2 separate regions of the Homo sapiens genome follow, and region 2 is linked to region 1. A link means that fine-mapping ties the variant in region 1 to the expression of a gene that starts in the linked region. Tissue or cell type: tibial nerve. Region 1 holds a variant in brackets; the other region holds the start of a gene. All regions are shown on one strand. Distances are between the middles of the regions.

Region 1 (5,372 bases):
TCTGAGTGTCTGGTCCACCAAAGAGGCAGAAGAAGGAAAAAGTTCCAGAGAGAGAATTAATAAAATCAAGGGAGGGTCAAGAGGTCAAGAAGTGGAGCTGGATGGAGGAGGCTGAGCCTGTGGGCATTGGGAAATAAGCTAATAGGGGCCCCTGGTCAGGTTGGACAATTAGCAATGGAGTTGTGTTTCTAATTACACTTCTGATCTCAACCTGTTTGGTTAGTGAATGAAATGAGGTATTGAGAGTAGGTGGGAAGTCGCTTTGAAAGTAGGGTAGGCTTGCAGGAGAAAGTGATTTATGAAATCTTCATTAGGGGCTGTTGGCTCATCACTCTGGCATTTACGTAGGTTGCCTGAATTTCTTCTTTTGACTTCCTACAGGGACTCTTGAAAGCAAGGTCCTCTTGATGTTTGCTCAGATCTCTTCTAGTCCTGGGGCTTTTCACATCTGTCTATAAGCCTGAGTTTCCCAGGTGACCTGTCCAGCTAGGGTGGCCCCTCTGGGCTCCATCTCCATCCTGGGCCACTCAACATCACCCCATACGGTCTCCCTGCTTCTCTTCAGGTTCAATTCTTACCTGTCCTTGATCTCTCCCCACACAGCCCACACTGGCCTTTCTGTCTCTTAAACATACCAAGCTTGGTCTCACCTCCAAGCCTTTGCCCGTGCTGTGCCCGCTGTCTGTAACACTCTTTCCCCAGATCCTCACAAGCCTTTTTCATGTAGGGCTAAGTTTAAAGATATCCTCCTCAAAAAGGCCTTCAGTGGCCACCCCATCTGAGAAACAGCTGTAGCATTGCTTTCTTCTCTTTATGGTGTTTGAAAACAGGAAATTATTTATTTACTGTGTTGAGATGTAGTGTCTATTTTATTAATGTAATATATGAATTTGGCTTTAAAAGTGAAATAATATGATAAAAATAATATAATATTAAAAAAGCAGCCTCCTGCCTGCCTCCTATTTGCTTTTCAAAAGCAACCATTTTTAGTTCTTTTAGCCGCTATTGCTATTAATATTTGCCTCTAGATTTCTTTTTCTGTTTGTTTGTTTTTTTGAGACAGAGTCTCTCTTTGTTGCCAGGCTGGAGTGCAGTAGCACAATCTTGGCTCACTGCAACCTCTGCCGCCCAGGTTCAAGCGATTCTTCTGCCTCAGCCTCCCAAGTAGCTGGGACTACAGGCACACGCCACCATGCCCAGCTAATTTTTGTATTTTTAGTAGAGATGGGATTTCACCATGTTGGCCAGGATGGTTTCGATCTCTTGACCTCATGATCTGCCTGCCTCGGACTCCCAAAGTGCTGGATTGCCTCTAGATTTCTAAATATTTCCTGTATTAGAAGTTCTTGACATCTCTATTTTATACATTACCCACAGTTGTTCTACTGAAGGTTTAACTTTTACACACACATACACACAGGACCATAGTCGCCCTCCATACTCTCTGAATAATTTATCACAATTTTTAATAAAAGTCATTATTCAGCTCTTTATAATCATGACTATGAAAATATTGTTTGAGGAAAAGCCATATGAAATAATGGAATTGTTTACTTTATTGCATAATTTTTGTGTTTTTTTCTGCAGTGATTCAGCAATTATTAAATTGCTTCTTGTGCTCATTTTCTTAGCTTTTCATGTGCCCGTCATTAATTCTTCCCTAAACTCTCTGACAGCACTTTAAAATGTCTCTTAATATGAACTAGCACATGAGTCAGGCCAAAAATGCCACGTTTTAATTTCTTGGAGACAAAGCTCTGGGAGCTCCACCATGTCGTACTCCAATGAGGATTGTTTGATTTGGGGGCACAGCTGTAGTTCTAGAAAATTCCATCTTGTTGGATCCTAGATCCCATTGTCTTGGTTTACACTGCTCTTGGATTAGCACACATTGTTGCAAGAGGTCAAATAGTAAGTATTCTCGGGTTTGCTGGCCACATAGTCTCACAACTATTAGACTCTGCCATTGTTGTGTGAGAGCAGTCAAGCATAAATGACTGAGCATGGCTGCCTTCCAATAATATTTTATTTACAAAAACAAGTGATGGGGTGCATTTGGCCAGCAGGTCATAGTTTGCCATCCCCTGGCTTACACCCTCTTTTTGATAGAGCTCATCCTTCAGTAGCTTCTTGAGAAAGGGTGCCTCGGAGATAGTTTTAAAAAAAATTTGCACGTCAAAAAAAGTCATCATTCCACCTTCATGTTTGATTGACAGTTTGGCTGGATATTTAATCTGAGGCTGGAAGTCACATTTCCTCAGAATTTTTAGGCCATTCCTCTGTTGTTTTCTAGAGATTTGTGTTTCTGCTGAGAAGTTTGATACTATTCTGATTCTTGGCATATGATTTAGTGTTTTCTGTCTAAAAGTCTTTAGGATCTCTTTATCCTGGGGATTTTTGAAATTTCCTGATGATATCCCTTGATGATTTTGGTTTTCATCCATTGTCTGGGCAAATAATGGCTCCTAAAAAACATCTCATTCTAATAATCCACAGCCTTCAGTTTGGGGAAAGTTTCTTGTATTATTTCTTCAATATTAAATGCTCCCCACCCACTCCATTTCTCTACTCTCTTTTTCTGGAATTAATGAGTTAGTTGCTGAAATTCTGGGCTGAATTCACTACTTTAAATTTTTTTCTCTTATTTTTTCTTTATCTTTTTTTGGTCTTTTTTTCTGAGTTATTTCCTTCTCTCTATCTTCTATTGAATATTTTATTTTAGCTCTTACATTTAATTTTGAAGAGCTATTTCTAAATCTGTTCCTTTTTATAACTGCCTGTAGTTTCATGGATGAAATATCTTCCCATATGTTACGAGGATATAAATTATAATTTTCTTCAGCTTTTTCTTTTGCTTCCTGAATTTATCTGTGTTTCCCCGATCTCTTCTTCCCTGCACCCCTGTTTTGTTTTCTGCTTTTCATGTCAGAGGATTCCTTGGATCCCTGGTGATCCTTGGCTGTTTGCATTGGAGGAATGCTCTGTAAAGCTGGCTGGAAGCCTGTGAAAGTAGGCAGTTTGTGTGGGATTATTGGAGAGGGACCCAGACCTTTAGTTAGGAGTTCCCCAAATTAGTATCTCTCCGTCTCTTTCTTTGGGCTGAGGATTTCTACAGAGATGGATCCGCAGTCTTTTTCCTCTTTTACCTGGTTGGGGGTAAAACTTGGGCTTCCTGGGTTCTGGGAATCACGTGGGGAGAGGGGAGTAGAAGTTCCTTCCATTTCACTCTCCTGCTTGCTCCCTAAATCCAGGGTCTGTCTGCTGCAGTTTTTCCTGAGTGTCACC[C/G]CCACCTCCAGGCATCACTGGTGCATCAAACTCCCAGCTTTTCCTGAATTTTGTGGCTCAGATTGGCTTCTTTCTTTTGGGCACTCCCCTCTCCGGCCGTTGGGTTTCAGCTTTTCCCGTCTGCAAAGTCAGTTCTCTTTCACTTTCCATCTTTCAAGAGTTCTTTGACCCCATCCCCTGGCATCTTCCCCTTTTCCTTCCTCATTGCTGTTGTCGTTTGAGGGAAATTTTAGGAAGGAGTGGAGATAAACTCACGTATCTAAGTGGAAGTTCTCTTTATTCTGCTCTTGTCTGCCTCCCTGCTGGGCACCAAGGGGGCAGGAAACTTGTCAGTCTTGTTTGTGGCTTAACATCATCCAAAGGGGCTGGGCAAATCTTAGATAAAAGCTGGCCCAGGAGAGGACACCTGGGGCTATGTGGGGAGTTCAGGAGGTGCAGTGGGCAAGACGAGCCCCCCTTACCAACTCCTACTTGAAACAGCATCTCTTTCATCAATTTCTACCCACCCATTCATATACCTCATCTTTACTGAGCCTCTACCATGTGCTTGGCAGTGTGCAAAACCCTGGAGAGACAGCAGTGGACAAGACATACATATAACCACTGTCATCATGGAGCCTGCAGTCTAAAGGATGAATTGTTACAGTCAGGTGGGGTAAGCACTTAGGAAAAAATACACACACTATGGTCCAGGGGGCTGAAGAAGTGAGAGTTAAGACCATTCGGATGGTCAGTGGAGATGAAGCCATCCTGTTGAGGAGAAGCCTGGCTAGACAGTGAAGTGTCCTGGGCAGAGGGGACAGCAGGTGCAAAGCCTGGTGTATCAGTTAGCTACAGCTGCATAACAAATTATTCCAAAATTAGTGGCAAAACAGCAACATTTATGATCTCACACTTTCTGTGGATCAGGAATCTGGACATGGTTTTGCTGGGTCATTTGGGTCACTAGGTGGCCATCAAGGTGTCAGCCAGAGCCAAAGTCATTTTAAGGCTCAATCAGGGGTGGATCTGTTTCCAAACTCACTCAGTTAGACATTTGCATGATTTGGTTCCTCCCAGGCTGTTGGACCGAAAGTCTCACTTCCTCCCAAGCTGTTGGTTCAACTGGTTCCTTGCTGTGTAGACCCATCCACAGAGTGGCTTACAGCACAGCAGTTTGCTACATCAGAGCTAGAGGTGAGAGAGCAAGAGTGTGAGCAGGACAGAAGTCACAGTTTTCTGTAGTCCCATTTCGGAGGGTCACTTTTGTAGCTTCATCCCATCACTGTTGCTTAGCAGTGGTTAGAAGGGAGTCACTATGTCAAATCCACACTCAAAGGGAGGGGATTTCACAAGGGCATGAGCACCAGGAGGTGGTGATCACTGAGAGTCATACTATTTATTTATATTTTATTTTTTGAGACAGGGTCTCACTCTGTCACCCAGGCTGGAGTACAGTGGTGCAATTACGGCTCACTGTAGCCTCGAACTCCTGGGCTCAAGCAATCCTCCCACCTCAGCCTCCTGAGTAGCTGGGACTACAGGCACCCACCATCATGCCCAGCTAATTTTTAATTTTTTTTATTATACTTTAAGATCTAGGGTACATGTGCACAACGTGCAGGTTTGTTACATATATATACATGTGCCATGTTGGTGTGCTGTACCCATTAACTCGTTATTTACATTAGGTATATCTCCTAATGCTATCCCTCCCCCCTCCCCCCACCCCACAACAGGCCCCAGTGTGTGATTTTCCCAGCCCTGTGTCCAAGTGTTCTCGTTGTTCAGTTCCCACCTGAGAGTGAGAACATGTGGTGTTTGGTTTTCTGTCCTTGCGATAGTTTGCTCAGAGTGATGGTTTCCAGCTTCATCCATGTCCCTACAAAGGACATGAATTCATCCTTTTTTATGGTTGCATAGTATTCCATGGTGTATATGTGCCACATATTCTTAACCCAGTCTATCATTGCTGGACATTTGGGTTGGTTCCAAGTCTTTGCTATTGTGAATAGTGCCACAATAAACATACGTGTATGTGTGTCTTTATAGCAGCATGATTCATAATCCTTTGGGTATATACCCAGTAATGGGATGGCTGGGTCAAA
Region 2 (5,372 bases), 78 kb before region 1:
AGGCCACATGGGCATGTGTTCTTGGGGTATGACCACATCGGCTCCTAAAGAAGATGCTCTCTGCGTGTGTGTGTGTAGAGTGCAATTGTAGACAAGCATATGACTGTGAATGTTTGTCAGCAGCCATCTATGAACTAGTTCTGCGCCTGTGAAAGAAGGAACCTGAATACGAGAAAATATCTGCCATCGGCTGTTTTCCCAAAGTTATTCTAGCCACCAAGGCCTCCGCCGTGTCCCAGCCTCTGTCCCCAGGCCTAGTGCCTCTCCATCAGCCTGGATCAGGGCAAATTCCCTGCCCCCAACTCTTCCCACCAGGGCCGGACCTGAAGGCCAAGGCCTCCGGGTATGTGCTCAGGACTCCTGGCCCAGAGAAGGTTTTTCCCTTTCTGCGTCTTTGCTTCCCCTTCCGCTTTGGGGTTCAGGAACCCCGATTCTCTGGAAGAAGAGAAGGCCTAGGCTACTGAGCTGCTCTGGCTAGAGACGTCCTTGAGTGTCTCTCTCTCCCGGGCAATGGTGGCTGTGCTCTGGGGGGCCCAGGCCTGCCTCCTGTGGCTGCGTTCAAGGCAGCTTGGAGGTCATTTAGGCCAGCTCCCCCGGGTTCCCCGTGGGCTCAAATCAGGACCCAGACCCTTCTCTCTTGCCACAGCTCTGGGCCACCTGGGACTCGGGACTTCCTGTCTCCCTTCCTACTCTGTCCTAAACCATTGTTCAGAGGCCTGCCGCCTCCAAGAATCGCCGAGGGAGAAGCTCCAGGGGAACTGGCCTGCCCGCATCCCCACTGCCAGTAGCGCTCAGGGTCCCAGGACTCGGGTCTTGCCAGACCACAGTGTCCCCTGGGACCCTAGGGTCTCTGGCTCCGCACTGTGTTGCGCCAGTGCGCCTGGATTTCCCGTGAGCTTTCGGCCAACCACGCTCCGGGCTTCCCGCCTGGCTCCGCACCTGCGGCGCTCTCACCTGCGGCGGCGCCGCCCGAGGAGCCTCCCAGCCGGCGAGGAGCGAGGCTTCTGCAGTCCTGCTGTCCCGCAGCCCCGCAGCCCCGCAGCCTCGCAGCCCCGCAGCCCCGCAGCCCCGCAGCCCCGCAGCCCCGCAGCCCAGCGCCAGAGCGCTGCGCGGAGACTCCTTGCCGCCGCACGCCCTGGGCCGGTAAGAAGCATCCGCTTCAAATCCCGCCCAGCGGGCAGCGCAAAGCGAGCGGTTTGGGGAAATGCCGAAGGGACCGGGAAAAACAAACTCCAAGTCGAGTTTAACAGCCGAAACGCTCCGTGCCTAGGCCGGCGGACAAGAAGGAGACAGAACAGATCCCTTGGCTCCCTCGCAGCGATCGATCCCGTTTACCGACCAGAGTCACCACCCCGCCCCCAGCCCGCCAACTCATACCTCCCGCAAGCCACCAGTTTCAAGGGATGCGGAAGCCAAGCACCCCGTGGTCCCCAGCACCAGGTGACCCGCACGTGCACTCACCGTAGCAGGGAACCTGCAAGGCCGCGCTGTGGCCGCTGCTGCCTTCCTGGAGTTTGAGGCTGCCGTCCGGGGGCGTCTTGCAGGCGCCTCGCTGCAAGTAAAGATGCGGTTGCGCGGGCGGCTGGGGCTGCGGCTGCTGCTGCTGCGGCTGCGGCTGCGGCGGCGGCTGGGGCTGCGGGGTCGACGGCTGGGGCTGGAACTTGTTAAAGGAGCCCCGCGCCCCAGCTCCACTCTCCAGGGGTGTCGCCAGGTCCTGCTGCCCAGCGCCGTAACGGGCCCGGCTCTTGGCGTCCCCGAATCCCTGTGCTTTGGCGGCGGCCGACAGGAAAGTTGTGCCGAACTTGTCGCCTCCGGGAAATGCCCTAAAAGGCGACGAGCCCTCCCGACTCTGCGACACCGGGCTGTAGTAGGCGTCCATGGCAGCGGCCGGCGACTCGCAGTAAGAGACGCAAGTCTCAGCATTCATGCCTGGCTTGCGCAGGCGGCGGGCGGGGACGCGAGCGAGGGCGCGAGGACGCCACCGCGCGCCTTGGCTGGGAGTTTGGGGAGGCGAGGAGGCTGTGGCTGTGCACTCCTTGCCCGGCCTGCTCGCTCTCCCTCCTCCCCTCCACGCCGGCCTCTCTCTCTCTCCCCCTCTTCTTTCTCTGTCTCTCTCCTCTCTCTCCCTCCTCTCTCTCTCTTCCCCTCCCTCCCCCCCCCTTCCTCTCTCTCTCCCTCTCTCTCTTTCCTCCCTCCCCACAGCTAGCCGAGGGAAAGAACGGAGGGCAGTAAAAAGATTCAGATGTTTCGGAAAGTTGACCAGATCTCCCAAACCCTCTTAAGGTTTTGCAGCGGAAAAAAAAAATAAGTAAATTTTTTTCCCTGCCTTGCTTCTTCCTTTCCCCCTCTCTCGTCCCCTCCTCCTCTCTCCTTCCACTGGCCCCTGCCCCCTCCTCTCCACTCTTAAGGAGATGCTACTAACTCGCTAGCGGGGATTCAACCCGGAGGCGCCCGAGGGCTTTTCCGATTCTAGGCGGGGCTGGGGAGATGCCAGGATCCCCAGGGCTCCCGAGGCTAGGCTGAGAATTGGCGGGGTGTCGGAGCTTTGCCTTAGGGCAAAGGGAAATGCAAATTTTAATGACAGGTTAAAAAAAAGCCCCCCAAAATAAACCTAACAGGTTTTGACATTCGAAGCCAGGGGGACCACGGGCCTGCGGATGCAAGCGAGTCCTACGGACTCCTGCGCGCGAGCTCGCGGGCGCCGCTGCGGGCCTTCCCGCTGGCACCTTTTCCTAGGTTTCCAACCTTCCTCCCCATTCCCGTTCCTACGGGAGATTAACACACACACAAGCCTTCGTCGTCCAGTGCATGGTCACTTGCACGTCTTGTTAACTATTTCCCTCTGCTGTAAGGGCGCTGGGCTGGGATGTAGCGGAATCTGTGCTCCCTCAAGCCCTGGAGAAGCCCTGGGCTGGGCCCGGCTTCAGAAGCTTTAGAGCGCTGCCCTCTGCGCTCCCGTCTAGAGGCCGCACCGTTCACGCCCCACGTCTGCGCCCAGGCGAGGGGATTTCCTGCCAGGCGAAGTACAGAGAGCGGACTCTGGAGACCCCCTGACCTTGCCCGATAGTCGCGCTGTCACCTGTTCACTCCTTGGGGTCAGGGGTCGGGGAGAGGGGTGAGACCGTCTCTTCCCTTTCTGGCCTCACTGCCCCCGACTGTAAAACGAACTGCTTGGTTTTGATAGGTTGTGGTTTCACCACCACTGCGAGCCTCAAGGCCCCTGGCACCGCCACAGCAAGGGAAAAAACTTTGCGCGTGCAGCCCCTCGATTTCGCTTCATGACAACCGTGCTAGAGATTGGCGCCCCCAATTTTCTGATGAGCTAACGGAGGCTCAGAGAGGGGCGGCCACCTGGTCCAGGTCACACAGCTGGGAAATAGCCGTCGCGCCCTGGAACCTCTGCTCAGGCTAGTCCCTCCACCGACCTGGAAGGCCGTGCGGACAGCGTAGATGCAGAGGGGAAACTGGCCCCCGGCTGTGGAATGGTTCAAGTTGAAGGAGACCAGCGAGAGCAGCCTTCCTTAAACCGCTGAGAAAATCGTTAAGCGAGAACGTACCTCTAGGGAGTCTGGGAGTAGGGTGAGAGGTAAAAGTGCAAGGTAAAATTAAAGAGGGCCTGAGCACCGTGAACCAAGGAATGTGGGTCAGATGTCAACTTTCTGCATCTAAGGTCTCCCAAAGAAAAAATATACCTGGGGGGTCGCGCTTCTGCTCCCAATCTCATCTGGGCTAATTCTTACCCCCACCCTACCCCCTTAGTATCTCTGGTCCTTGCTCCGCCGCCGACCGCGCGATCCCACATCTGGTTTCCATCGCCGGCTTACCTTGAAGTGCTCGTTAATAAAGATATTCCGCAAACCAAGCCAGGAGCGCGCAGGCTCCAGCCGCCCCCCACTCCATGCCCAATGGGAACCGCGCCTCACTGGCCCGCAGACCTAAGCCACTTGAGAGTCCTTTATTTATTGAGCTCCTGTTGTGCCAACAATCTGGCAATACAAGGCTTATCATACCCATTTTGCATATGGGTAGACTGAGACTCAACCAAAATAATTTTCCAGTTAGCAAAAAGCGGAGTGCTCCTGCCATCATCCTAAATGCTCCTGTCCAGCGGTTTCTTCAAGTTCCTAGAACCTGCCAAGGTCTCTAGCCTGTGCACTGTAGCATAGGTGGTTTCCCCTACCTGGAATTCCCTAAACTCATTCCTGCACTTTTGTCTGGCTAATGATTCAGAGTTCAGCCTAGAGCATCTTCCTCTAGGAAGACTTCCCGTCTCTCCTAGTTTAAGTTGACGCTTCCGTTTGCCTCATCTCCGTCCCAGATCTCGTGGTTGTCTGGTTGCCTGGCTATGAGTGTATCTCAACCCCACTAGTTGCCCCAGGGCAGCCTCCTACGTGCCTGGCACCCCACAAATATTTGTGGAATAAAAGATTAAACCTGGACCAGGCGCGGTGGCTCACACCTGTAATCCCAGCACTTTAGGAGGCCAAGGAGGATGGATCACAAGGTCAGGAGATCGACACCATCCTGGCTAACACGGTGAAACCCTGTCTCTACTAAAAATACAAAAATTAGCCAGACGTGATGGCAGACGCATGTAGTCCCAGCTACTTGGGAGGCTGAGGCAGGAGAATGGCGTGAACCAGGGAGGCAGAGCTTGCAGTGAGCCGAGTTTGTGCCACTGCACTCCAGCATGGGCGACAGGGCGACAGGGTGAGACTCCGTCTCAAAAAAAAAAATAAATAAATAAAAATAAAATAAAATAAAGATTAAACCTGGGGCTGTAGGACTCTATCACCTCAGTGTATTCCAACTGCTCAGTGCAGCACCAAGTTCTGAGACTCTTTCTTTGGTTTCCCTTAGTCAAGGACAGCTGGTCACCCACCCACCCCCTCTTCAAAAATCAAGTAGCGGAATTAACAGCGTGCTGGACCTTCCTGAGCCTGTGCCTTGAGAGCAGTGAGTTTTCTCACAGCAGGGGCCAGGTCTGTCTTGTTCGCTGTAGGGCTTGGCACTCATAAAATGCTTGTTGAGTGAATGAATGAAAGTGTCCTATGGTTCCCAGGGGCTTAGAGATGCATTTTTTTGTCAAGGAGTTCCAAGCCAGCCGCCTACTCCAGTCTCCTGTGCCCAGCAGCTGCCTGTAGGCACCCAGAAGGTGGTGGCAATACCCCCGCTTCTTTCTCCACCTCCATTCCTGTCTAAAAAATGAGGGAAGGACTATGAGAGGCAAATTGTGGTGGAGAGGGTTGGGGTGGGGATGACAACCCCGAGACAGGAACAATTGCAATTGTACACTCTTCCTAGAACCTCTGAACCAGGCGCACCCAATGCAAAAATTTGCTGTGTTTCATGAAGCATTTTTTGAGCATCAC

Which allele goes with the higher level. Positions count from the first base shown, and alleles are read on the strand shown. Sizes are in standard deviations (SD) of each study's normalised expression.
For the expression in tibial nerve of the gene that starts at base 2,004 in region 2, allele G in region 1 goes with a lower level than allele C (small effect, 0.22 SD a copy in GTEx).

What was found. PIP is the estimated chance that this variant, and not a neighbour inherited with it, causes the effect.
Region 2: ALX4 starts here. The variant in region 1 is the best candidate, but not a certain one, in a credible set for the expression of ALX4 in tibial nerve (GTEx, PIP 0.62).

The regions. Positions count from the first base shown.
Region 1 is chr11:44,386,027-44,391,398 of GRCh38, forward strand. No RefSeq gene overlaps it. Among named protein-coding and RNA genes, the nearest start is that of ALX4, 79 kb to the left of the region's middle. The variant C/G (reference allele first, on the strand shown) is at 3,286.
Region 2 is chr11:44,308,136-44,313,507 of GRCh38, forward strand. It overlaps ALX4 (ALX homeobox 4), which reads right to left and starts at 2,004. Exons shown (of 4, transcript NM_021926.4): 1 at 1,462-2,004. The coding sequence starts at 1,927. RefSeq lists an enhancer at 1,982-2,910.